Homo sapiens: one gene and its partner. The protein of the gene in region 1 purifies or fractionates together with the protein of each later gene. This does not show direct contact. Each region holds a gene or a part of one and is shown on either strand. Other genes may lie near its edges. The genes, in order: MTG2 and PREP.

What was found.
Region 2: the proteins of MTG2 (region 1) and PREP purify together in Homo sapiens (affinity purification with mass spectrometry; 2 studies listed by BioGRID and IntAct, with this or other methods). This does not show direct contact.

Annotation. Positions count from the first base shown.
Region 1 is NC_000020.11:62,183,676-62,194,631, reverse strand, and holds part of MTG2 (mitochondrial ribosome-associated GTPase 2), read right to left. Parts: intron 6,099-10,956; exon of another isoform or gene 5,794-6,098; coding exon of another isoform or gene 5,751-5,793; intron 5,124-5,750; exon of another isoform or gene 1,296-5,123; coding exon of another isoform or gene 1,212-1,295; coding exon 1,008-1,211; coding exon of another isoform or gene 954-1,007; intron 1-953. UniProt on the Homo sapiens protein: Plays a role in the regulation of the mitochondrial ribosome assembly and of translational activity. Displays GTPase activity. Involved in the ribosome maturation process.
Region 2 is NC_000006.12:105,271,646-105,282,601, forward strand, and holds the end of PREP (prolyl endopeptidase), read right to left. Parts: intron 10,938-10,956; coding exon 10,806-10,937; intron 10,258-10,805; coding exon 10,101-10,257; exon of another isoform or gene 8,976-10,100; intron 7,434-8,975; exon of another isoform or gene 7,371-7,433; intron 6,794-7,370; coding exon 6,499-6,793; 3' UTR 1,573-6,498; downstream 1-1,572. UniProt on the Homo sapiens protein: Cleaves peptide bonds on the C-terminal side of prolyl residues within peptides that are up to approximately 30 amino acids long.

The DNA of each region.
Region 1 (10,956 bases):
AACATTTAAAATTTTTAAACACAAAAATTTAAACACAAAAAAAAATTTAAAAATTTAAAACACAAACATTCTAAGATTCTTTGGCACCACCATGTGGGAAAACCACGAACTGTTATTTCCAAATTTCAATGTGTAATGCTGTCATGCGCCAACGCAAGCAAAATCCACCAGACAGGGAGGAAAGCCCCACTGGTGAGCACTTCGTGGAGGACAAAACCTCGACTCACTTTCTCTCCTGGGGAGGAGACAAGCCTGTGCTAACGCTTCAGCTATTTGAGCACACATCCCACCAAAGCGGCTTTTCCACTGGAAGTGCTGTTTGTCCCAGTAATGCTTATCTGGAGCCCCTCCATTCAGCAGGAAACGAAGGGAGTCATAAACGTGCATTTTCTTGAATTTATTAGAGACAATTCATGCTTTAAATAGGAGGTTTTGGTAAATAGAACAAGAAAAACTTATAAGGCTTAAAGAACCATAAAACGGAAGGTATATTCCCCCCTACTTGTTTTATTTTTATTTATTTATTAATTTAAAAAGGTTTTTTTTTTTTTTTTAGTAGAGACAGGGTTTCACCATGTTGGCCAGGCTGGTCTCGAACTCCTGACCTCAAGTGATCCGCCTGCCTTAGCCTCCCAAAGTGTTGGGATAACAGGCATGAGCCACCGTGCCCAGCCTCCGCATTTGTTTTAAATTAAGAAATAGCCACACATATGAAAGGATATATGTAACATACATGTAAAATACACAGGCTCATGGGAAAATGAGCAGCCTGTATCACGGCTTTCCAAGCACGCAGCGCCTCTCCCAGCCTGCTGGGATTTGCTGAGCGTGGGATTTAGCACGCAGGCCTGCGTTTCACCCTGTCATTTTCAAGAAGCTCCACGTGCCCCATCACTAAGATCATCAACTAACATCAACAGAGATGAGACCCAGAGGAGGACCCGAAACCACACCCTGTGCCTTCTGAGGAGGAGACAGGCAAGCTGCTCTAACTCCAGGAGTCTCACCAGCTTTTTCTCAGAGAGCAGCTTCTTCCCCGGGAGTTCCTGATGCTTGGCGAGGTCCGCACGGCCGACCGAGAGCAGCCTGGGAGAAGCCCGCTGTGGCAGTAGCCGGCTGGGCTTCAGGCCAGCCCATGTGGACAAAGCCCAATGCCCCACGCCCTGAAACACGGTCCTCAATCTTGCTGAGAAACACCTTGCAGGTGCCATGGCCCCTACAGAAGTCAAATTGGCAAAATGAGATACTTGGTTTAATGCTGGGCATGAAACAGAAACTGAAGACGAGGGCCTCATGCAGCAGGTCTTTGTGCACGTTTCTGAAACAAACAAGTGAACTGATGAATCCGATTTTCCTGGTCACTCACCCTCTCGGCCCTGGGTCACGTCTTGCCCTCTGACCCGTCAGCCTATCTGTGACTTGGGAGCAGGATTTCTGTACAAAGGATTTAAAACATGAAATCTTCCACAACACTGGACACATCCTCTTATGGAATAGCAAGGTTCCGCTCAACGAAAATATTAAAAAGGAAATCTGAAGTGCAAGTCAAAATTTCTTGAAAAGAAAAACACCCATTTATTAAAATGTTATCAAGAGTGTTATCCTGTGTAATTTTAAAGTTGTTACATTGGAACACAAGAATATTAAACATGGGGCATAGCGGCTAAGCACCCAGGCTCTGGAAAGTAACTCTAAGGGAAGGCCATCCACCTGTGTGGCCTCGGCCTCCTCACACGGCTGGGTGAGGACGGGCTGAGCTGATCCACACGGCTGCACAACCGCGGCCCTGGCTGTGGCACCGATAGAATGAGAAGAACACACTTGGCCCCTGCTCCTGGCTCCTGACACAGAGCTCTCAGAACGCTGGTAATTTCCTGAGTGACAGGGGCGATAGGGGTGCCTGACACAGAGCTCCTAAATCCCTTGGACTTCCCAGGTGACAGGAGAGTCTTCTGTTCTAATGAGGCACCTCTTGGTGGGCTCCTGGATGGCCTTGGGAGGGGGCTGGTCATCATAAAGACCAAGCCACGATGAGAAGCCTGGACCTTTCGGCCCCACCCCCACCCTCCAAAAAGGGCAGAGGGGCTGGAGGCTGAGTTCATAACTGATCATGTCTCCATGATGAGGCCTCCATGGAAATCCTGGAACTAGGGGCTCTGGAAAGCTTTCAGTTTGGTGAACTCATCCCCGTGCTGTAAGGCCAGCCACACAACTCCCTGGGGACAAAGGCTCCTATGCTTAGGACCCTCTGGGCCTCGCCCGTGCCCCTCCTCACCCAGCTGCCTGCCTGTGCCCGCTGTGGCATCCTTTATAGTAAACTGGCAATGCAAACCAAGTGCCTTCCTGAGTTCTGTGAGCCACTACCGCAAATCATCAAACCTGAAGGGGTCGTAGGAACTCCCAATGTGTAGCCAAGATGGACAGAAGTGTGGGTACCCCAGGGACCCACTACTTGCAATTAGCATCTGAAGTGGGGGGTGACTGAGCCCCTAACGCTGGGGTCCCTGATAACCGCGGCAGGGTCAGACTGAACTGAATTACAGGATGCCTGGCTGGTGTCTGCAGAGGACTGGCGAATTGTTGGTGTGGAAAACCCACACATTTGGTGCCTGATGTGTAGTGTGGGTGGAAATATCCCCGGAGCGACAGGGTTGGCACAGCTGCAGACTCTAAGTGCCAGCTACTGTCACTCTCAAAGCCTCATTTAAGCTGTCACTCATTCAACAAGCCGCTCATGACAGCCGGCTACCTTGCAGGTGCCAAGGGCACAGTGAGGAAGTCCTGACCCTGCCCTCCAGGAGAGGACAGCCCCTCTCCCTTCACCATGAGCACAAATACCTGCCTGCTCCCAGAGCTCCCCAGTCTTCAGCAGGTCGCACAGGAGGGACCTTACAAGGTGCTCCCCATCCTGACTACAAAAGATGTGTACAGAAGGGGCCCCAGTGGACGGCTGAAAACTCAACACGGGGCCAGAGCGGGAGCACAACGAGGGGACACCGCCTGCCTCCTCCCTCGCAGTGCCTCGGACGCCTCCCTCTCCCCAGCCTCACTCCTCTGAAAAGGTGCCACCTCCTTTGGGGGGGTCACTATCTCTGTGGGGTCCTTGGCCATTCTGCTTTAATTCTGAGGCAATCACAGTTACAGAAAAGCTGGAAGAAGAGTACAAAGAACTTCCTCCTGAATCACTTAAGAGTCAGTCGCCGACTGGACTTCCCTGCACCCAGAACAGTCCATGTGTGTTTCCTAGAGAAAATGGTGTCCCCTCCAGAACCAGGGTGTCATTGAGACTGGCCATGACCGACAGCCCCTCCCACGTGGGCCCCGGTCTCAGCAGTGCCTCTCCCTGTAGGAAAGTCTGCGTCCCTATCCCGGCTGCCTGCAGCTGCCACACCTTGTCCAGCTCCTTGGGCTGGAAGGTTCCTCAGCCTCTCCTGACTCCCGAGCCAGCCCTGACACGTGGGAGGCAGCAGGCCAGCTGTGCACAGGACGTCCTCATTCCCAATTCAGCACTCTGGGGTCATTCTAATTTTCTCTTGTGGTCTTGGTAACTCCATTCTCCGCCTATAAGAAACCGGGCCTCCATGCACTTTAAGATATTTATGGAGCTGCTCAACCCCTACCTGCTGTGACCCGCCCTCAGCTCCACCTCCCCGCCTGCTCCCAGAGCTCCCCATTCTTTAGCGGGTCTCTGTTCTCCGACTGGCTGAGTTCCCGTGCCGGGCCACCTCTCCATGGGACACCCTCCCCTTGATACCCTTCCTGTAAATATATTTTACAGGACAGCTGATTTTGAGATGGTTTTAGATTTGTGGACAAGGTGCAAAGGCATCCCTGCGGACTTCCTCCCCAGTGCCCCCGCAGCCGTGCCTGTGCGGCCGCCGCCGCTGCACCGCTACTAACTGAGCTCCAGGTGGGGCTTGGGGCTCAGCAGTTTCCCAAGAGCGTCCTTCTTCTGGTCCAGGATCTAGGCCAGGATCCACCCTGCTTTTAACCATTATGTAGGGATATTTTTAAGTGTTGTCAGAAAAGAGGCACCGAGGTATTCTATACGCAGGGAAAATATCTTTCAGAAACGAAGGTGCAATAAAGATTCTAGATGGCAGAAAACGAACATAGTTTGTCACTAATACAGCTGCTGTATAAGGAATGCTCAAGAAAGTTCCTCGGGTTGAAGGAAAATGATACCAGAGGGAAGCCTGGATCTTGAGGAGGGAAGGGAGAGCAACAGAATTGGTAAATATAAAATACTATTGTTTTCCTCTTAGGAGTTCTTAAATATGTAAGACTGTAGACAAAAAAATACTGCGTAGTTGGCTTCCAACGCGCACAGAAGTAATCCACATGAAAGGCAACAGAAAGGTCAGGAGGGGATTCGAGGGACCCAGATGACTGCAAGGTCCCCACGTTTCTGTGAGGGGCACAGTATGAACTCTGAGCAGACAGTGAAGGCTAACAGGTGTGCAGACTGGAACCTCCAGAGCAATGACTAAGACACAACACAAAGACACAGATCCGAAAAGCCAACAGATAAATGAAATGCTCAGAACTAGCCCAACAATTCCAAAGAAAAAGAACAAACAAACAAAAAACAGAGGGGACAAATAGGAAACAAATAATAAAAGTGCACCTAAATCTAACCATATAAATAATTTCATTAAATGTTAATGTTGGCTGGGCGCGGTGGCTCATGCCTGTAATCCCAGCACTTTGGGAGGCTGAAGCGGGCGGACCACGAGGTCAGGAGTTTGAGACCAGCCTGACCAACGTGGTGAAACCCCGTCTCTACTAAAAATACAAAAATTAGCTGGGCATGGTGGCGTGTGCCTGTAATCCCAGCTACTCAGGAGGCTGAGGCAGGAGAATTGCTTGAACGGGGAGGCGGAGGTTGCAGTGAGCCGAGATTGCATCATTGCACTCCAGCCTGGAAGACAGAGCGAGACTCCATCTCAAAAAAAAAAAAAAAAAAAGTTAATGTTTACAAATTCTAATTAAAAGGCAGAGGTTGACAAAGTGGATTAAAAAGAGCTAGCTGGGCACAGCAGTTCCTGGCTGTAATCCCAGCACTGTAGGAGGCCAAGGCGGGAAGATCTCTTGAAGCCATGAGTTCGAGACCAGCCTCGGCAAAATAGCAAGACTCCTGTCTCTACCAAAGGAATTAGCTGGGCATGGTGGCGCACCCCTATAGTCCCAGCTACTTTGGAGGCTGAGGTGGGAGAATCACTTGAGCCCATGAATTCAAAGCTGCTATGAGCTATGAATATGCCACCGCACTCCAGCCTGAGCAATAGAATGAGAGAAAGAGACACTTTTTTTTCTTTTTTTTTTTTGAGACAGAGTCTCACTCTGTCACCCAAGCTGGAGCACAGTGACATAATCACAGCTCATTACAGCCTTGACTTCCTGTACTTAAGAGATCCTCCTGCCTCAGCCTCCTGAGTAGCTGGGGCTACAGGTAAGTGCCACTGTGCCTAATTTTTAAATTTTTTTTGCAGAGACAGGGTCTCCCAGTTACCCAGGCTGGTCTCAAGCGATCCTTCTGTCTTGGCCTCCCAAAGTGCTGAGATTACAAGCATGAGCCACCACACCTGGCCTGAGACCCTGTCTAAAAATAGAAAAATAAAAACAGTAAAGACATAAAATCTGAACAATACTATCAAAACATTTATCTAGTTGACATTTACATAACAGTACATCCAACAACTGTACAATATACACTGTTTTCAGGTACAGGTGGAAGTCATCAAACAGACCATAAGATGTGTCATAAGTCTCAATACATTGAGAAGAAATCATAGTCAGTCCTCCGTATCTGTGGGGTCAACAAACCTCACGTCAAAAATATCTGGAAAACAAACAAAAAAACCAGTAACAATACAACAATTTTTTTAATTTAAAAAATAAAGTATAACAGCTATTTACATAGCATTTACATTGTATTGTACTATAAATAATCTAGAGATTACTTGAAGTATACAGAAAGGCCCGGTACAGTGGCTCACACCTGTAATCCCAGCAGTTTGAGAGGCCAAGGCAGGAGAAAAACTTGAGGCCAGGAATTTGAGAACAGCCTGGGCAAAATAGCGAGACCTTGTGTCTACCAAAAAAAAAAAAAAAAAAAAAAAATTAGCTGATTAGCTGGACATGGTGGTGCATGCCTATAATACCAGCTACTTAGGAGGCTAAGGTGGGAGGATCACTTAAGCCCAGGAGTTGGAGGCTGCAGTGAACCATGATCACACACTGCACTCCAGCCTGTGTGACAGAGCTTCTGTGGTGGGGCTGGGGGGAAGTATATGAATACCAACCACAGGGTCTATTCTCGGAATTAAATTGGAAGTCAATAGCTAGAAAATATCTAGGAAAATCCCAAATACCTGCAAATCAAACAAGCTTCTTCTAAATAATCCATAGGCCAAAGAAGAAATCAAAAGAGAAATTACAAAATGTTTTGAACTGAATTATAATGGAAATGCAAAATACCAGAATTTTTTTTTTTTTTTTTTGAGACAGTCTCGCACTGTCGCCCAGGCTGGAGTGCAGTGGTGTGATCTCGGCCCACTGAAAGTTCTGCCTCCCGGGTTCACGCCATTCTCCTGCCTCAGCCTCCCGAGTAGCTGGGACTACAGGCGCCCGCCACCATGAAATACCAGAATTTAAGAGATGCAGCTAGAGTAGTGTTTAGAAGGAAACTTACAGCTCTAATGGCTACCTTGGTAAAGAAGAAAGATCTAAAATCAGTAACCTAAGGCTCCAAATCAAGAAACCAGAAAGAGCAAAGTAAGCGTCGAGTAGAAGGAGGAGAATAATACAGAGCAGAAATAAAGAGACAACAATAACATGTAACAGAAAAAAACAGGTTCACTGAAAAGACAAGCTAACTAACACACTTCTAGCCTGATCAGGAAAACGAGAGAGCGCAAACCTCCACTGTCAGGAATGTTCAACGGGTTATCAGGACACACCTTACAGACAGCCAGAGGGCAAGAGAATGCTGGGAACGACTTCATGCCAGCAAATTCAGTAACAAATTCAACTTACATGAAATGGACAAATTTCTTGAAAAAGGCAACTTATTAAAGAAACACAAGAATAAACAATCTAGAATAGCCCTGTATCTACTCAATAAGTTAAATTTCTTATAAAAGAACACTCCCCAAAGGAAAACTCTAGCTCGGCTTGTTTTCCTGGTAAATTCCATGTAACATTCCAGGAAGAAACAGTGCCAATCTTACACAAGCTTTTTCAGAAAATAGAGGAAGTGAGATCACTATCCAACTCATCCTATGAGGCTAGTACCAAAATCTGACACTAAGAAAAAATAAAATTATAGACCATACCCCTCATGAATATAGATGCAAATAACTCTTAACAAAATATTACCCAATTGAATCCAGCAGTTCAGAAAGGATCACACATCAAGACCTAGTAGGGGTAATCTCAGAACACAAGGCCACATCAAGCAGTCAAAACTCAGCCCAGGCACTTCACTATATCAACAGGTGGTACCACCGTCTCAACACCCACTCATGAGGAGGAAAACAAAACATCTCAGCAAACTGGGAACAGACGGGAACATCTTCGCCCTGATAAGGGCACTACGTAGGGCCGGCCGACAGCTAATCACATTTAATGAAGAAATACTGAATGGTTACCTCCCAAGATGGAGAAAAAGGGCCTCCACACATACCACTGCTATGCAACAATGTCCTTTCACACACTGAAATAAAGGGGGAAAAAAGGAAGAAGTAAAACTGTCCCTGTTTACAGAAGAGAGGACAGAGTTCCACAGAGAATCCCAGGGAAGGCTGGGCACGGTGGCTCATGCCTGTAATCCCAGCACTTTGGGAGGCCGAGGTGGGCGGATCATTTGAGATCAGGAGTTCAAGACCAGCGTGGCCAACATGGTGAAACCCCATCTCTACTAAAAATATAAAAATTAGCCAGGCGTGGTGGCACGTGCCTGTAGTCCCGGCTACTCGGGAGGCTGAGGCAGGAGAATCGCTTGAACCTGGGAGGCAGACGCTGCCGTGAGCCGAGATCACGTTACCGCACTCCAGCCTGGGTGACAGAGCAAGACTCCATCTCAAAAAAAAAAAAAAAAAACAAAAAAAAAAGTCCCAGGGAAGGGAACTGAGCAAGATGGCATGTTATCAGGCTAATATAAAAAAATCAGTTGTATTCTTAAATACCAGCCGCAAACAACTGTAAATTAAAATTAAGAAAAAACCCCATTTATGGTAGTGCCAAATACAAAAAGTACCTGAAAATAATTTCACAGTAAACCTTCAAGACCTCTACCTCACTACTTGCAAAATACTGTTCTAAGTATTTTTCAGGGATTAACTCATTCAGTCCTCATAAAACTCTGTGAAGTAAGTCCTTCATCATCCTCATTTTAAAGTTGCGGAAACTGGGCAGACAGGTGAAGAGACTTAACCCAGAGCTATCAGATGGGAAGGCTCAGGGGTGGTGCATAAAAACAGGTTGGGGAAAAACAACTCGGGCTCATCAACACAAGCATAGCCACGGCTCAGCCTGCTGGAACGTTACACCATCCAGCCCGGATATTCTGGAAACCAGGCTTCCTGATGCAGGTGACATGGAACCTGCAGATCAACCGCAGAGAAGGTTGCAAAGCCAACCAGAGACCTGAACTCGGAGTCTTGCCTAATTTGCTTCCTCCTTTTTGCCCTTTCAATTTCTCTTTGGAGGCCCGCTGAGTGCTGTGCTCTCTCCCCTGCCGGATGAACAAATCCCACTGTTTTCACGCTGCTCTTTGGTGTCTTTATTTTCCTTCCAACAAGGCTGTCCTTGACCTGTCCAGCACAGTCCCCACTGGCCAAATGTGGCCATTTGGCTAAAATTAACTGAAATGTAAAAACTCAGTCCCTGAGGTAACATCTAAGTGCACACAGCCACATGTCACGAGTGGGTACATATGGGACAGCACATATTAGAACACTGCCCTCATCACAGAAAGGTTTTTTTTTGAGACAAGAGTCTCACTCTGTCTCACTCCCAGGCTGGAGTGCAATAGCATGATCTCACCTCACTGCAACCTTCGCCTCCTGGGTTCAAGCAATTCTTGTGCTTCAGCGTTCCAAGAAGCTGGGATTACAGGCACCCATCACCACGCTCAGCTAATTTGTGTACATACATATACATGTATATATATGTATGTGTATATATTTTATTTTTTATTTTTTATTTTTATTTTTTTTGGAGACAGTCTCGCTCTGTCGCCCAGGCTGGAGTGCAGTGGCATGATCTCAGCTCACTGCAACCTCTGCCTCCCGGGTTCAAGGGATTCTCCTGCCTCAACCTCCCGAGTAGCTGGGATTACAGCTGCATGCCACCACGCCCAGCTAATTTTTGTATTTTTAGTAGAGACAGGGTTTCACCATGTTGGCCAGGCTGGTCTTGAACTCCTGATCTCGTGATCCGCCCACCTCAGCCTCCCAAATTGCTGGGATTACAAGCATCAGCCACCACGCCCTGGCCATTTTTTTTCTTTTTTATTTGAGGCAGAGTTTCACTCTTGTAGCCCAGGTTGGAGAGCAATGGTGGGATCTTGGCTCACTGTAACCTCCGCCTCATGGGTTCAAGTGATCCACTCGCCTCAGCCTCCCGAGTACCTGGGATTACATGCACCCACCACCACACCCAGCTCATTTTTGTATTTTTAATAGAGACGGGGTTTCACCGTGTTGGCCAGGCTGGTCTTGAACTCCCGACTTCAGGAAATCCACCTGCCTCGGCCCCCCAAAGTGCTGGGATTACAGGCGCGAGCCACCACACCCAACCAATATATCCACTTTTAAATGTATTCCTAACGATAATACCCTGCGAGGGGTAATACTGCATGCCGAGCTATCTTCCATTTGCTTTTCCAGACCAGCTTTCCACCCTGCCCTGTGCTGTGTGTCAGGAGCCTGAGCTTGCCCCATAGGAAAACCTACTGGGACCTGGCCCTCTACCAGAGACTGGAGGCAGGAGCAGGAGGCCGGGACATGGACCTCCCTGCCCACTCAGACTGAGGCTCACACCTCCAGTCCAAGAAGCCCTCCCCAGTGACTCTTCTCCCTGTCCCGATCACTGCTGCCTTCCCTGATCCTTTGGAGTCCAGGAGTAGAAACTCCACTGCCACCAGTTCCAGGCTAAAGGACCAACTGTCATTAACCTGCACTCTGCCTTTGCAAACGGTCCCTTTATAAACCCTCCTCAAATCCTCCTGTGAGCATGAAACCTGATTTTTTTTTTTTGGGTATGTTTTTGAGACAGAGTCTCGCTCTGTTGCCTAGGCTGGAGCAGAGTGGTGCGGTCTCGGCTCACTGCAACCTCCACCTCCCAGGTTCAAGCGATTCTCCTGCCTCAGCCTCCCCAGTAGCTGGGATTACAGGCGCCTGCCACCACGCCCGGCTACTTTTTTGTATTTTTAGTAGAGATGGGGTTTCACCATGTTGGCCAGGCTGGTCTTTAACTCCTGACCTCGTGATCTGCCCGCCTTGGCCTCCCAAAGTTCTGGGATTACAGGCGTGAGCCACCGCGCCCAGCGGAAACCTGATTCTTGACTTTACATTTTTTATGCCCATCTAAAGCAGTGGAGGCTGAGACTCACAGAGGTTCAGTCACTTGCCCAAAGTCACATAGTATCCTCTGGCCTCCCTGGCATGCTGCTGACACCTGCATTTTACGGCAGGAATCTTCTCACTGAGGTTCGCCTACACAGACTTCCCAAGGGACTAAGGCCAGGATAATTTCAAAGGAATCCATTTTCTGCCCAAGTTTCGCTACGTTCTCTCTGCTAAAACAGAACTGCCTGAGGACGAACCTGCGTTTAAAACAATTTGAATTCTCCTTTCCCGTCCCCCTTTTATAATGGGTCCTCCCCTTTACAAAAGAAAGGTATTTCTCTAGTGACACTGCCCAACAACCCCTCTAATTCCCACCTACAGG
Region 2 (10,956 bases), on another chromosome or scaffold:
TGAGCTGAGATCACACCACTGCACTCCAGCCTGGGTGACAAGAGGGAAACTCTGTCTAAATAAATAAATAAATAAATAAATAAATAATAACACTTAGTTTAAAACACATATATTGTACAGCTATACAAAACTATTCTTTTTTCATGTATATATATTTTTTTAAACTTTTTTTGTTAACTAAGACACAAACACACACTTTAGCCTAGGCCTACACAGGGTTAGGATCATCAATATTGCTCATTGTCTTCCACTTCACATCCTTCCAAGGTCTTCAGGGCCAGTAACGCTCATGGAGCTGTGATCTCCTATAACAGTGACTACTTCTGGAAAACCTCCTGAAGGACTTGCCTGAGACTGTCTTACAGGGTAGCCTTTTTTTGTTTTTAGGAGTATACTTCAAAATGATAAAAAACTATAATATAGTGAACACGTAAACTAGGAACAGCTGTTATGATCAAGTATTAGGTACTGTACATACTTGTATGTGCTAGACTTTTATATGACCGGCACTGCAGTAGGTCTGTTTACAACAGTATCACCACAAACACATGTGTGTTGCACTGCGACATGATGGTGGCTATGATGTCATTAGGTGATAGGAATTTTTCAGCTTGTTATAATCTTATGGGACTATCATTATACATGCAGTCATATGCAGAAATGTTATATGCTGCATGACTGTATCTTGGATGAATTGCAGCATTTCACACTCCAAGGCAAGACCAGAGTAGTGACAGAGCAGGGGGTGGCCCTGGTGTTCAGGTTCCTGCATCTTCTGGGGCCTGAGGTTGCAGGCAACCTGGTCCTCTGGAAAAATGCCAATCACAGCGCCAACACCTGAATGTCCTGGGGAAATAACTCAGTGCTACCTGTATTAACTTCCATCATTTTCTCTGGAGTTTTAGGGTGGTTATGTTTTGATGCTGATTTGGTTTTCAGGTTAACCTCAGTTTGACTCTCCATAGAGGTGACTGGAAGCTCTTTCCTCTGATGTTTCTCAAAGCCTTTCATACTTTGGAACTGGAAGACACTATAATATTGTGTCAATTAGATGTAAATCAGTTTCTAAATCATATATTACCATTATGATATTTTGTTTATAATTTCTAGATTATTTGGCATTAATAACCTCCACAAATGGCCACCAAGTCATTTTCTCTTGCACAGTAAACAAGAGCTTCCTTAGTCACTTACTTGGCATTGAACGAACCCTCCTTGCCCGTGCCTCCCCCTGCCTGCTTCTCAGTGCTGCGGTCACGTGGCTGCAGGAGGCCCTGAGCTCCTGAGCAGAGCAAAGCCTGTAAGGTGGATGCAGGGCATATTCTCAGGACACCCTATCAGCCGGCCTGATATTTGATCTACAGGAGCAAACTCAGAGAGAGAGAGGGACAGTTTTGCCTGCAAATGTGAACCCTGACCTAAAGACGGCTGCTCAAAATAGCCCTCATCCTCTTTGCCTAAGCCTGATATGCAAGCTTTTATCTCAGTTGCCCCTGGTCACCTGCCTTTCTTACTTGACTCTGCAGTTCTCCAGGTGGCTATTCCTGGATGGCACTCATCCAGAAAGGGTCATTGCTCTTTTTTCTCTTTATTTCACTACCAGAGATTATTTCGATAACATTATGATTTACAAACCATAAAATTCATACATTTCAAGTGTACAATTCAATGACTTTTTAATACATTTACCAGGTTGTGCAACCGTTACTGAAATCCAGTTTTAGAACATTTTTGTCATCCCGGTTAGATCCTTTATGCCCAAGTAGTTAATTACCATCTTCACCACCAACTCCAGGTACCCACTAATCTACATTCTATCTTTATAGAACTGCCTTTTCAGGATATTTCACTTAATCAGACTATACCCAGTCATTTGTGTCTGGCTTCTTTCACTTATAATGTTTTTGAGATTCATCCATGATATGGCATGTCAGTGATTTTTGTGATGGTGGGTTCCTGCTGCCCCCACCCCCAAAATTCCTTAAAGGTGCTAAGCAACCTGCTCTTTGAATAACCACCCCGCTTTTCCCTAGGCTCTCCTGCTGTCAGTTTCCCACAGTGTTGTCGGCTTTCATCTCTCAGTGGCTTCACCTGACTGAGCTGCCTGCCATCTCTAGTGTATCCTCCAGGCCTCGCCTGGCTCCCTGTTCCCCCCACACTGGCTTCCTGCTCTTCCTCCAAAGGCCTGGCTGGTTCCTGCCTCAGGCTCTGCCCATTGCTGCTGTCCTCACCAACCCCCAAAACGTTGCCCATTGTTTGTCCCCTCATTCCGTTCGGGTCTTTGTCCGAATGTTGCTTCCTGAAAGAGGCACCCTGACCTCGACTCAAATAGCATTCCTTCTCACGGACTATTCATTTGCCCCACTTTGTTTCTTCACAGCTCTTTTTATTCCTGTTTCTTGTTAATTCCTGAAATTATACTTTGTTTATTATCTTGTTAATAGACTCGTGGGTATCTTAGTCTGTTTAAGCTGCTATAAGAAAATACCATAAACTGGTGGGTTGTCAACAACAGAAATTGCTCTCTCACAGTCCTAGAGTCTGGGACATCTAAGATCAAGGCACTGGCAGATTTGGTGTCTAATGAGGGTTGCTTCCTGGTTCATAGGTGACACCGTCTCCTGTGTCCTCACATGGTGGAAGGGATGGGGCGGGGGGGTCTCTCCTTGGGCTCTAATATAAAGGCACCAGTCCCATTCATGAGGATTCCGCTCTCATGACCCATCGCCTCCTGAAGGCCCTGCCTCCTAATTCCATCACTTTGGGATTTACGATTTCAACATATACATTTCGGGGAGGACATAAACACTCAGACAACAGCAGTAAGAGAGCTGTTTCGGCTGGGCATGGTGGCTCATGCCTGTAATCCCAGCATTTTGGGAGGCTGAGGTGGGTGGATCACCTGAGGTCAGGAGTTCAAGACCAGCCTGGCCAACATGGTGAAACCCCATCTCTACTAAAAATACAAAAAGATTAGCCGGGAATGATGGTATGCGCCTGTAATACCAGCTACTGGGAAGGCTGAGGCAGGAGAATCACGTGAACCCAAGAGGTGGAGGTTGCAGTAAGCTGAGATAGCGCCATTGCACTCCAGCCTGGGCCGTAACAGCAAAACTCCATCCCAAAAAAAGAGTGCAGTATCCAAGGCCCAGCTCCTGGGGTTACTGCCCTGCCTGCCCACCTCCTGGCTGGGGAACTTGGACCTTTGCCAAATGGGGAAAAGGTATTATGTGCTTCCTAAGGTTGTGTGAGGACAAACATTCATCCACACAGAGTGCTTGCAGCGGGTGGCACAGGGTAAACATGAGCAAGATAATTTACCATCTGTCTCCTCCCTGGAATATCAACTGGATGAGGGCAGGACATTTTCTCTCTGCACCTTCAGCCCCTGAGATATGGAGGATGAGAATGGCTCAATGTTCCTCCTTCAAGGGCCTCAGTCCTCATCCCACTGGCCTGACCACCCCAACAGTATGACCTTTGCCTCTTTACAGCAACCTCCACAGCTTTCCAGCCTGTCCTTAACCTGCCTTTGAGTCTTTGCAACTCCTTCTGGGCATTAGCTATGTGGCCTGCTGGGAACTTCCAGAGGCTGGTAAAACTGACAAACCTTGAGAGACTGGTGACAGGCTTCCTTAGTTGAAACTTATCCTTTTCAAACTTGTAGCACCATGTGTGTGTAGCTGCTTAAGCTTTAGTGGGAGTATTTAAGAAACATGATTAATTGGAAAGTTTTATAATATTCCAGGTAAGTCCATAGTGAACATAAATGTGACTTTATCTTGCTAAGGTAACAAATGCTCTGGTGTGCTTAGCAGGGCCTTGTGACAAAGCAGTGAGGCCACCTGTGCAACATGTACAACTTTTTCTTTTTCAAAACAGTCCTAAAAAAACTAAACATATAAGTCCTCTGTGATCGAGCAATTCCACTACTGGGTATGAATCCAAAAGAAAGGAAATCAGTATATCAAAAAGATATCTGCACTCCTGTGTCTACTGCAGCACTATCCACAACAGCCAAGATAGGGAATCAACCCACGTGCCCATCAGCAGATGAACAGATGAAGAAAATGTGGTACATATATACAATGGAATATGATTTAGCCATGAAAAAGACTGAGATCCTGTCATTTGCAGCAACATGGATGGAACTGAAGGTCAATATGGTAAGTGAAATAAGCCAGGCACAGGAAGACAAATATCCCATGTTCTCCACTCATGTGGGAGCTAAAAAAGCAGGCAGAGAAAGGGAGGATGAAGAGATTAATGCCTACAAATATACAGTTTGAAAGAAGACCTAGTGTTAGATCAGTAGGGTGTCTATAGTTTACAATAATCTACTGTGCATTTCAAAATAGCTAGAAGAGAGTAATCATAAGAAAGAGCCAAAGGGCAGAGCACAGGATACAGAAAAGTGGGATCAAATAGAGAAGAATCCCTTAGAGTTCTGGGTAGGAGCCCAATCTCAAGTCTTATTTCTAATGTTTAAAGCTCCCCCTACTCCCCAAAATACCTTTAGTTGGTGGGATTAGTTGTCCTGTGAAAATCTAGACACAAAAATTAGGTTGGAAAAGAGAACTCGTAACTGGAGGCCAATCATGCTAGGCATTAAAAACGTATTACTGTATTCCTCCTCCTCCTCATCAGTTGCTAAGTGACATTTGGGATTTGAACCCAGTCCTGATATCTGAAGCTCACACACTACACACTGTATTTTCTGCTGTAAAGCAGACCTCAGAAAGTATGGTTAGATTCTGTGCAACCTTGAAAATGCTCTGGACTCAGTGGGTCCAACTCAGCTATTTGTACTTCACACCACACAGCTAGTCTAGGAAAGAGGCTGCCTCTGGCTTGACCATGCAAATGTATTTTCTTTCTTTCCTGCCATGCTGGTCAGCAGTTACACCAAAGCTAGCTAGTATCAGTATCTGAGTAGATGGTGATGACGACAGAGTCTCAGCATGCAACACTAGCTACTGGCACACTTTGTTTCCAGAGGAGTTATGGTGAATCTTATACTCAATGACAACTGTATTATGTACCGTACTAAATAGTAACGGAAAACATGATTCCAGTAGAGAAAAACCAAGCCATATAGCTGTCTTTCAATATGCTTGGTATGCAGTGATATGCTTGATAGAAAATGGTATGTCTAATTTTTGACCATAACTTGAAACGTAGAGAATGAGAGAGTGCTCTTAAAAGCACATACATATACAACTTGGAAGATGGGACTTACTTGGAAAAGTACAAATTATTGGAATAATGAAGTAATCTTTTAAGCTATTTTATATAAGGTTAAGATACTATATAAAATAATAATTTTTATCATATCATCTGATAAAGCAAGACAAAGGAAAAAAAACTGTTTTAAGTTAGATCAGCATTTCCCAAACTGATACTCAAAGGAACATTGTTTCATGAAATGTTAAAATATATGCCTTGAAAAAAATTTTATGGATGAAAGTTTAAGGAATAGTATATCTTAAAAATCTTGGGGGTGGGCAAACCAAAACTTTTTTTTTTTTTTTTCCAGTAAGTAAGTATGACTATTTCTATTTCCAGGAGTGATCTATGCAGGAGAAACAGCTTGGGAAATGCTGAAATTTCTGACTGTAAGAAATGCTTGGATATATGTATCTGTTTGTTTGGATAATTTACTCATGTGATCTCTTGGAACCAAGGATCCTTGGATCCAAGGAACTCTGATTTCTAGGAATACTTTGTAAACAAATCAATATACAAATAGGTGAATAATCTGAATTTTCCAGCCCAGTGATTTTTGAAAGGAGGCATCCAAACCAAAAGAGCCCCAGATCAGATTTTTACCCAACTAAGTGGTCAGTGTTTGTTTATGACAGTGAACCCCCTCTGACAGCTTCATCACCTCTAACAAACAAACAAACAAGGGAGACAGAGTGGATGAACAACTTATTTTCAAAGCTAACAAACATTCTATGACTTAACTGCTTGAAAACTAACTTGTTGCAGAAAGGTGAAATGCTTTATTCTCACAGAAAACTCCACTTCTGGAGTTGCCCCTCAATATGAAGAAACCGGAAGTAAAAGCCTGTCATTCTTAAATAACATTTATTATTGTTGCAAAGAAGTCTTCTCCATGAGAACAGTTCTCACATTTATTTAAAGATATAGAGGTTATGGATATAGATAAGTATGCCCGACTATGATCCTTAATTCAGCAATCTAATATTCACAATGTGTTTGTTGCCATTTAGCTATTTATCCCAACATGCCCTTAAAAAAAACACCAAAAAACCACATGTGCCTAGACAGGGTGGAAAAAGAAACACCAAGGCCTTGCTAAAAAGGAGAAGCCTAAAAAAGATAAAATTCCCACGGCAGTTCTGTTCAACTGTAGCCTGTGAGTGCAGGAATAATGTTCCCGTGGGGAAGCATTATGCCCAGTGGTTTCTTGGTGTCAACGTGGGAAAGCCCTTGAGGTTTTCTGTCGCTGTCAGGAGGAAGCACGAAAACTGTTTATGGAATCCAGTCGACGTTCAGGCACCGCGCGATGAACGCAAACATGTCTGAGACTTCCTCTATCACTTTGGCTGTGGGCTTCCCCGCCCCGTGGCCCGCCTTGGTGTCCACGTGGATAAGCAGGGGGTTGCTTTGCTTCCTGCTGCGGCCCACGATGTACTGAAGGGTGGCAATGAACTTCAGGGAGTGAAGCGGGACCACGCGGTCATCATGGTCAGCAGTGAGGAGCAGCATGGACGGGTACTGGATGTCATCTGCTTCTGGTAACTTCACATTATGCAATGGAGAGTATCTGGAAGGCAAAAACACCTTTGTGAGGCTGGAGAGCAACAGTAGAGTTTTATGGCACAGGGACCTAGGTAGTTAATTAGCAGTGAGGACTGCAGTTAACTAGTACGTGAGTGACCACCATGGACTGTGCCTATGCGTTACCATTTAGGCCATGACTGGCAAGGGCTCCTGGAAACTGGGGAGCTGTGTCATTTATGTGGCTCCAACTTTGAAAGACTGTAGGAAGGAAGCTCACAGGTCTGTTGAAACAACCCAAATCACAGGCATGCTTACTGTCTCTTAAGGTGAGTAGTTTCATATTCTCTAGGCTTTTTTTTTACTGCTACAAAGTGGAGTAATAATTGTCATTATAACCACACTCAGTGGTTCAAAAAAAGTCCAAGCCTTTCTTTTGTTGAGAAACTTGAAATCCACAGTATAAAGGGGCTTGCTGCCCCTTTAATAACATCTATAAAGCCTTTATTCCAGGCTCAGTTTTGCAATCTTAGGAAAAGCACATGTCCTCTCTGGGCCTAGTTTCTTTGTAAACCGAGAAACCTGGATGGGCTGTTGAGCCTCCTGCTGGCTCTCAGTCCGGCAGAAAGCAACAGACTTTGCCAGAGGAGGAGGGCACCTTCCGAAGTACCAGGCAAGTTTCCTGGGTAAGTTAACAAAAAGGGTGTTAAGTATAAAAGTAATGTTGATTTTAACAGTGACTGATAATAGTTGAAATATCTGGATATTTTTTCTTTACATTCTCCTAATAGGGGTGTCATGTTTTTCAATGTATTTAATATTTATTAATGAATAAAATCACCTGTTTTAGTAGAGTTTTATTTTGAAGGGTAGGTAAATAGTGAAAACAGTAAAAATTCTGCTCAGTTAACCAACGTGAGGCCAAAACATTCTTGGGCTCAGTTTCCCACCAGATAAGATGGAGATCTGTTTTCTGATCTCATTTAAGAGTGTCTTTTGACCAGCCCCATTCTTCCAAATATGGGTTAGTTCTAAAAAGAAACAAGTTTGGAAAACCCTGCCTGTTAATAATAACAATCTCCCCCTTGGAGATTCACATGCAATATTTATACATTATCTGTAGGAAAAAATACATTAGGCTTTATTTATCGCCCAGCCATTCAAACTTGGAGCTCTAGCTCTTTTTTTGGGGAAACACCTTTTACTAATTCTGGATGGTGCTCCATGAGGCACAGCCCAGGGGGCGGGGAGGTGTGCTGGGCTTGAGGAGCTCCCTGTAGGACCCTTCCTAGCTAGTGTGGGCTGAGTTCCATGCTCATTTTACCAGCCGCAGGTGAAATGCAGCCCTGTGAGAGCAAGATTTGAAAACTGAAGAAGGAACATCATGGAGAAAAATATTTAGAACTTTCTTTGTTTTTAAATTAAGTTTGAAAGTATTAGGTGTCATCTAATATTCTTTTGCCTTCAATTAACTCAGTATTTTCAAATGAGTTTAAATAGGACTTGTTTCCTTACGTGCAAATTTTCTCTAAGTTAGATATTCCTTCTTCAAATATATAGCTTCTACCAATGTGTGTCAATGAGGCCTGCATGTACTGAAAAGTAATAACTTTCATAGTGAACTTTGTTTCCCCTTAGAGAATAGAGTTTAGTAAAGTATCCAGTTAAAAAAAATTCAGTCATTTTAAGTATATTTCAAACTGGAGAGGCTAGCCATAAAAAGCAAACAAAATGAAAGAGCAAACTTTAGAAACTTGGCCGTGTGCGGTGGTGCGCACCTGTCGTCCCAGCTACTCAGGTGGCTGAAGCATGAGAACTGAGAACTGCTTGTACCCAGGAGGCGATGTTGCAGTGAGCCGAGATGGCGCCATTCCACTCCAGCCTGGGTGACAGAGCAAGACTCTGTCTCAAAAAAACAAAACTTTAGAAACTAAAGTTATTTTCATCAAAATTTGTAGTTTACTAATAGGAGGAACAGGCTTCTTGTGCCAGTCTGAGAGCCAAACACTGGTGATTAAAAATAAAACTCTTACATATGGGGAATGAAGGGCCAAAAAGAAGTTTTAATGTCTGTTTACTCATTGTTATCAGCATAGTGGTTGCAGGATACAATGGAAGTTGTGTAAGATTTCAATAATGCAACTTGCAGTTTCAAACATATGTAGCTATATTGAGCATAAAAGAAGTTTAATTGTATTTGAATATATTCCTTTTTTTTTTTGAGACAGGGTCTTGGAATGCAGTGGTGTGATCTTGGCTCACTGTCCCCCCAGGCTCAAGCCATCCTTCCATTTCAGCCTCGCGAGTAGCTGGGACTACAAGCATGCATCACCATGCCCAGCTAATTATTTGTAGAGACAGTACAGTATTTCACCACATTGCCCATGAAGGACTGGTCTTGAACTCCTAAGCTCAAGTGATCTACCTTGGCCTCCCAAAGTGCTGGGATCACAGGTATGAGCCACCATACTCAACACCCCCTTCCCCTACTCTTGACCTGCCATTTCAGGAGCATATATTCTTTACTTAATTTAGAAAAGGAAATCCCATATATTTGATATAAAGTATAATAATACCTTTTGATTGTTACAGTAACAAATTACCACAAATTTTAGCAGCTTGAAACATCACAGACTTCTTATCTCACAGTTCTGTAAGCCAGCAGTCTGGGTTGGCTCAGCTGGGTTCTCTGCTCTGGGTCTTCCAAGGTCAAAGAAGGTCAAAGTCAAGGTGTTGGCTGGTTGGACTCTTACGGGGAAACTCTGGAAAAAACCTACTTGCAGTCTCGGGATGTTGGCAGAATTTAGTTTTGTGCGGCTGTGGGACTTAGGTCCTGTTTCCTTGATGGCTATTGGTTGGGGGTTGCTCTCAGGTTCTAGAGGTCCCCCTTCCTCCATTGTCAAAACCAGCAATGGCAGGCTGAATCCTTTACAAGCTTCCAATTTCTCTGACCTCCCTTTCTGCTGCATCCCTGACTCCAGCCAGAGAATGTGCTCAGCCTTTAAGGGTTTATGTGATTTGGGACCCCTCAAGAGATAATCCAAAGAGCAGCAGATGAATATCCTGCTCCCTGACAGCAAGCAGTATCTAGGTAAGTGTTTGAATAACCAGGGTAGGAATCTTGGGAGGCCATCTGTAGAATTCTGCCCTACCACATTTTTTGTAGTTTGTTGCTTTTGTTCAAGACCATATTAAATCAAGAAAGACAAGTAGGTAGTCCCATCTCCTCTCCAGCAGATTATATGCAAATGCAAGACCCTGACAGTGACAAAGCTCAAGCACTAATCCTGCTGTGACTGTGTTCAACTTTATATCAAACCACTAACAACATATATATGTCAATAAAACCTTACTTGACAAGCCATTCAAAGTGTTGTTTGCTGTCCGAGCACCCATAATCAGTGGTCCAAGCATGGCCGATGGTATATTTATGAAACTTCAGCATGTCCATTACTCCAACTTGGGCAATAACACAACCAAAGAGGTCAGGTCTCTGATTTGCACAAGCAGCTAAAAGCCCAACGTAGAAAGAAAAGGGAGGCAGTCTATCATTAAACATCTACATAAACAAGGCAAGGCAATACTTACTTACATGCTTCCAGAGCCCTGGTTGCATTTATCCAGAGCACAAGAGGAAACCATCAGAAATCACCTGCCCAATAGCCCCAAAGCTCCCCACCCACTCTGAGATCTGTCAGAGGGGGTGGGGATTCTCATCAGTAATGGAGCTTTACTCCCCAAAGTGAATCTTGAAAAGCTTGAGGACTTTCTGGAAACCCTGTATCCCCTCCTCCCATCCCCACTTGCTTTCACAGTGATGAGGGAGATTAAGGGACTTGTTCAAGATCTCAGGACCTGCCCAAGGCAAAATAAATAGGGTCTCTTCGTATGTCATTTATCAGATACCCAAATACAAATGGTACAAATGGGTTTTGCTCTCCTTATACCACTTTGTGGTCCTATCCACAAAGTTAAGTCAAGAGCTGCCTACAGATGGTGTATCTGAAAACCCCAAGAGGGCTAACTAGTAAGTGCAATGAATAAAATCCAGTACTCACCCACTAAGAGGCCTCCATTTGAACCTCCATTAATAGTCAGCCTCTTGGGAGATGTGTAACCTTCCTTGATCAGATACTCAGCAGCACACTGAAAGTCATCAAAGCAGTTTTGTTTGTTGGCCAAGATACCACCTACAGTGTGCCAAAGTGG